Linked DNA regions of Homo sapiens. The protein of the gene in region 2 purifies or fractionates together with the protein of the main gene of each other region. This does not show direct contact. Each region holds a gene or a part of one and is shown on either strand. Other genes may lie near its edges.

The links.
Region 1: the proteins of SLIT2 (region 2) and LUM purify together in Homo sapiens (affinity purification with mass spectrometry, with the first as the bait; one large-scale study listed by BioGRID). This does not show direct contact.

What each region holds. Positions count from the first base shown.
Region 1 is NC_000012.12:91,102,129-91,105,311, reverse strand, and holds the end of LUM (lumican precursor), read left to right. Parts: intron 1-992; coding exon 993-1,147; 3' UTR 1,148-2,683; downstream 2,684-3,183.
Region 2 is NC_000004.12:20,254,905-20,258,404, forward strand, and holds part of SLIT2 (slit homolog 2 protein isoform 1 precursor), read left to right. Parts: intron 1-1,767; coding exon 1,768-1,839; intron 1,840-2,963; coding exon 2,964-3,035; intron 3,036-3,500. UniProt on the Homo sapiens protein: Thought to act as molecular guidance cue in cellular migration, and function appears to be mediated by interaction with roundabout homolog receptors.

The DNA of each region.
Region 1 (3,183 bases), on a different chromosome or scaffold from region 2:
AAGATAGATGTGTTATTTCTAACAAGATCAGATAAGTGTTCCAGTGTTGCCCACCTGGGTAAGTGGCAGAGGTAGAATTCCAAGATGGGACTATGCCCATCTTCTTTCCATTTTTCCTCACTTTCTCAAATGTTGGTACCATAGAAAAATCCCTGGAATTAACTGATGAGTTATTTTAAAAAGCATGTGTGTTTGGGGTTCCACTGAAGTCTTTGTTAACTAGAGTTTGAAAATGAAAACAAGATAAAGGACTTGAAAATGTTAATCTAAAATAGACATAGGCAAACATAGTTTCTGTGTATACACAGGTCAGTCAATTCAGTAACACTCTTGGTTTCTATTACAAAGTAAGTCAGTGTTTCATTTGTGGCAGCTTTTTGACCATGGACAAAAATAAACAAATAAACAAAAACATGAGTTCAGATGGTGGACATGCCATGATTAGGTTTTTGCCTTAGAATTTTGATCATTGCTATGGTGTGTGATTGCTGGAATGATTTGGTTTTTGTCTTGGAATTTTTATCATGGTCATGGTATGTGGTTGCTAGAAAATTCTTTATAGATCATCTAGTTAACCCTTCTTATTTTTAGATGTAAAACCAAAGAGTACTTATACTGAGATTGTTCATACAACAATGGGATCCATTTATATTTCTTCAGGTTATACTATTTCAAAAAAGTTGTTAGATAATATGACACACTTATTGAATGCCTTTTTAAAAACAACTTCTAGTAATAAAATAAGTTCTGTTATTTAAAATATTCCACTGAATATCTTGATCTACCATGATTACTCTTTACTAAATGTTACTGTGCCATTTTGGTAGCCTGAAATATGCCTTTAATGGTTGCAAATTCAAACATATACTATATTATGACTTTTCTAAATGGGAAGAGGTCCTATTTTATAATATATTAAACATAAATTTTTTGTATTGTTTTGAGCCAGTGTACTGAAAAATGATTAATGTTTTCTATTCTTTAATTTTTAGAGTTTGACATAAAGAGCTTCTGCAAGATCCTGGGGCCATTATCCTACTCCAAGATCAAGCATTTGCGTTTGGATGGCAATCGCATCTCAGAAACCAGTCTTCCACCGGATATGTATGAATGTCTACGTGTTGCTAACGAAGTCACTCTTAATTAATATCTGTATCCTGGAACAATATTTTATGGTTATGTTTTTCTGTGTGTCAGTTTTCATAGTATCCATATTTTATTACTGTTTATTACTTCCATGAATTTTAAAATCTGAGGGAAATGTTTTGTAAACATTTATTTTTTTTAAAGAAAAGATGAAAGGCAGGCCTATTTCATCACAAGAACACACACATATACACGAATAGACATCAAACTCAATGCTTTATTTGTAAATTTAGTGTTTTTTTATTTCTACTGTCAAATGATGTGCAAAACCTTTTACTGGTTGCATGGAAATCAGCCAAGTTTTATAATCCTTAAATCTTAATGTTCCTCAAAGCTTGGATTAAATACATATGGATGTTACTCTCTTGCACCAAATTATCTTGATACATTCAAATTTGTCTGGTTAAAAAATAGGTGGTAGATATTGAGGCCAAGAATATTGCAAAATACATGAAGCTTCATGCACTTAAAGAAGTATTTTTAGAATAAGAATTTGCATACTTACCTAGTGAAACTTTTCTAGAATTATTTTTCACTCTAAGTCATGTATGTTTCTCTTTGATTATTTGCATGTTATGTTTAATAAGCTACTAGCAAAATAAAACATAGCAAATGGCATCACTGTGTTTGACTTCTTGTGAAATTTCTGTACTTTGTATATAAAATACATAAAACAATAGATTAGAAATCAAAAGATATCTCTGGCCTGCAATATTTTACTGATGTGAACATAGGATTTTCCACTAAATAATTTGTCTACTTCTAGCATTCACTTACAAAGAGTTCTTAAAAACACCTATAATAGGTACTTAGATTTCACAACTTACTTAGATATTTGTCATTATTCCCATTCCTGGTGTTTTTACTGGTTCATATACAATGGTATTCTATTAGATAAGAAGCTGCTATGTGATCTCAGCACTCACTCCTTGGTTGTCAAGAAATGGTGGATAACTCACAGGATTAAAAATGAATGAATATAAAATTTTCTGAAATAGATATTTAAAAAATCATTTTAGCTTGAAGCCAATATGTCTGGATCATAGGTTTTGAGTTCATAATCCAGTAATAACAGCTTTCAGCTTTCTATGAGTATATACAATTCTATACAATGATAAATACTCTGCATATAATTTATAAAAATAACTTCTGTTTTACCTAGTTAACAATAAAACCTATGTGTGGAGCCAAATGTTATGCAGACAAAGGTCTGCTCATCCCATACCAGTGTATATATAGTCAAATATGTGTCTAGTACAAATAAAATGTATCTCTAAGGCATAAAATGTTTTAACACACCACTTTTAGTGAACTCTATCTTATGGTACAGCGGCCTTTCATCAGAGGATCATCATTGAGACTGAGTTGACTGGCAGATATGTGCGATGGATATTACATTAGGTACAATGTGTATTTTTGATTTTCATGAGTTTTCTACATTAAGGTAAATTCCTTAGAGTGTGATAGCAGCCTCAGTTTATTTGTTGGTTTAAACTTGAAATCTACTTTTTCTCGATAAAACTATAATGTAGATGAATTGAAAATGAATTTTCTTTTCCCTGTCTACAAAAGTCACTATCAAGCCTTGGAAACCTATTCTCAAATAGAGGGTAGATAATGTGCCATAAATTCTCTTTTAGAAAGAATGTGATGGAATTAAATGAGCTTTGTCTCTATACTACTTAGAGGAAACATCTTCTCAGCAGACAGTCTGTCTGCATCTTTAAAAGCCTTTGATTTCTCTCTATCCAAAGTCCTATGTTATTCTCATGCCTAAGAAGCAAAACTATGACTTTTAAAACAGCAGTTCCCTTTGTAGTTAATGTTGGTTGACAAAGACAAAGTTAAGCACTTAGTGACACTTTGTTGTAGAAGCATCTGGGAAAGGAATATACCCTGTTTAGGAACAACTCCTCTTTTTAGAGGGAAGACTTCATCTTTTCAGGGCAAAGCTGGAGAAGAGAAGATTCCCACTTACTCCTTCACTCACTGGGCAGCCCTAGTGAGGTGCTGAGGGAAGAAAATCTGGTGAAACTT
Region 2 (3,500 bases):
CCCCGCCTCCCTGTCTTTGCGAGTCTCTAATGAAGAAGTAAATGCAGACCCGGTGTTGACGGCCCACGCGCTCCTGATGAGGCGCTTCCAGAGTTCAGCGAAGTGGAGCATGGAGGCCGTTCTCTTTGTGAACGCCGAGGCCGCCGCCCCGCGCCAGTCCGGCCGCCCTAGGCACGTTCCGCTCTCGCGGTTGCGTGTGGGCCGGGAGTAAGCGAAGGGCGCGGGGCTAGGCCGGCAGGGGCCAGCGCGTCTGGATTCGTCCCGCGGCCTCTTTGCCCCCGGGGTGTAAGGGTTTCGGGCCGTGGAGAGGAGGCGCTCTGACCCGCACGTCTCCACCCGCGCAGCCCATTGCACTTCAAGTCGCCCTTCTTATCCAACCCATTTCTCTCGCCCTTAGTTTTAAGGCCCAAGTTGAGCCACCTTTTGCTTTGCAAATGGCTCTTCTACCCCCAGCCTCACTAGGTTACCCTTACTCCTTTCTCACCTCTCCGAGCTGGCCAAATCGGGGCTCTACTAGGGGTGCCTTGTCAGGATTCGATCCACATTTGTGTAGGGTGGTGGGTGGAGATTCGTGTTATATCGAATAGCCCAACAATTTTAGGAACAACTGAATGGTACTCTGCTTAGCATGGAGAAGTGGGTTGAGTAGAAAGGAAGAGAAGCCACGCAGAATTCTGTTTTAGCACTTGTCATTTCATGCTATTCAGAACAGTTTAAAGTTTAAGCACGAACATGTCTTACTCAACAAAAAGGGAATGCACTTGGGTGGGTGGGGGTGAGGGGGGAGCGTAGCAATTGAATTTCAGGTCCTTGAAAAAATATACATCCTTATGAGGGATGAACAAAAAGTTTCCAGAAAATAGTTTACTGGGTGCTGACTTGTAAAATTCTATCATTGAAACAGTTTGAATACAGATTTCAAACATGATGTTGTAGAGTCAAAGGTGATATAGAGCTTACTTCTATGAAGAGCATTCAAACCGCAGCAAAGCCTGGTTTTACTTGAAGTGATTGGAACCAGGGCAAGTTTAGATCTTGACCTGAAATGCCAGAAAAGGAGATCGTGACTCCTGAAGGAAAAGTGCTGCAGAAATCTGAACAAAAATGTCAGGGCCTGAATACTATTTCCATTCTTGCCCCTGTTAGTAGTTTTCACTTTACAATCACAGCGGGGTTCCCTGAGCTGCAAATGAAGAATTAAGTTTTAATACAAACAGAATTGTTGGAAGGTAAATGCCTATGAATGCAAGTCTTTGAAGTGCAGTTGTTTTGATGGCACTAATTTTTTTCTGTGCCTTAGGAAGTTTCGCCACCATGCTACCTAAGGACAGTGTTCTGAATTTTTATAAAATTTCTTCCTGAATAGCATGAGAAAATTGGGCATTTAACCTCCTGAAGGGAACTTTTTTTTTGGGGGGGGTGCCTAACAATTATAGTAAAATAGCAGAATACCTGTGAAATTAATATACAATCCTTACAGAAACAAAAATGGAAAGGACTCTCCCATACACAAAACAAACGAAAACTTTTTTGTGATAATGTAACCACTTCATTTTCTTGTCATATGCCAGCAAGAATGAACCTTGTAAATGTGTTGAGTCATGTTAAAAATATCCTTTTAAAGGTTATCCTCTTCTCCTTCCTACATACTTTGTATACTACTTTAGTAATTGAATTAACTTTTAGTTCTGATTTACTCTAAACTTTACTTGAAGCAGGTAAACATAGAAATAAAATGGAACTTTCACTTTCTGGTTTTTCTCTTAGGGATTTAAATGGAAATAACATCACAAGAATTACGAAGACAGATTTTGCTGGTCTTAGACATCTAAGAGTTCTGTAAGTGCATCCTCTGTATTTTTAAATAATTTTTTAAGGTTGCATATTTTGAATCATTACTGGCCTCAGTTTTTATGACTATTCTGATGACAGTAACATAAAACATTTAAAAGGTCATGCTTTCCTTTTTTCTGTGTTTATCATTGTACTACAACATTTAATAAAAATTGGGGCTTTTATTTTAAGGTTGGAAGCATGCCATAGAACCAATAATCCAGAAATGACCTCAGATCTTTGTTATACCATACCCTAAGCGCTTTATGCATATAAAAATGTTGAATAATTGTTTTCACAAAATGAATAAGTAATAAGAAACATTTGATACTTTTAGGATTTGAAATTAACTAAAATATTTAAGTGGATCTGTATTTTATTATTGATAACAAAAGGATTCTTATTTTTTTGCGAAAATCTAATATCAAGCATTAAAATCAACCATTCAAATTTTCAGCAGAGTTTATAATGATACATTAGTCATATTTTGAGTTTTTATATTTTGTGTCTTTGTAGCTTCTATAAAATTGTTGCAATATGATTACTTCTTTAATTAGTGGGTTAAATTAGCTGTGAGTAAACCACCACTTGCGAGTCAATGTAATGTTAAATTGTTCTCACCCACAGGATTGTAAATATTGACATCCCAGTAGCCATACAGTTTTGACCATTGTGCATTCAGTGTTCTAAGTTTTAAGAGACACATTTTGGTCATTACAAATTATTCCAGTTGCTGATGTGTATCCATGTCAGAATTGAAGTATGTATATGATGAATTACTGTATTTTGATTCTTTGGTTAAGTTGAAAACCAGTGTATCAAAGAAAGCTATCAAAGCTTCAGTGTCAAGGATTACTCTTCAGATATACTATTAGTTTAAGGGTCAGAGTTTTGACCAGTAAATCTCATGAGAAACTGCATTTGTATTAAGTTTTGTGATGCAGACACTGCTATTTCCCTTCCATGAGTTCACTCAGATATATTATTATTAAATTTGATATTGGATCTCAAATCAGAGCACAATTTAACTTTATAAAGGGAAAGAGTTTACAAGTTTTCAGTTGCTGAATTGAAATTTATTCAGATGGTGAGTGGTAACATTAAGAAGCATGTTATATTTTGCATTTCAGTCAGCTTATGGAGAATAAGATTAGCACCATTGAAAGAGGAGCATTCCAGGATCTTAAAGAACTAGAGAGACTGTAAGTATTTTCAATTCCAAAGTTATGACAACATAACTGTGTTTTTTAAAAATACTTAAATTTCAAGCATCATGTCTTCAATTTCATGTCTTAGGGTTTGAAATTTTGCAGAAAAAGGAGGATGAATGAGTGGTTTTCAGGTTAATTTATGACAAATAGAGTTCCTGAATAAAAAGTTCTAACTTGTAATTAAGCTCAAAAATACAGTTACTTTCCTGAGACATGTATTTCCTTGATAATCATTGCTTTGGTACTTAAAGATGTACAAGCATTTCTTATTCTTCATTTGATTTGTTTTATTTGCTCATGTAGGAAGAAAGGTGGTACTTTTATTTGCGTTAATGGTGCATTAGGGAAGAGAGAAGTTTTGCTAATTGTTATTTTCATTTTCATGGTGGTGCTTTGTGTGTTATCAGTGACATTTGATGAAATATTTTATATTTTACTAATAAAGATTTACTTTTT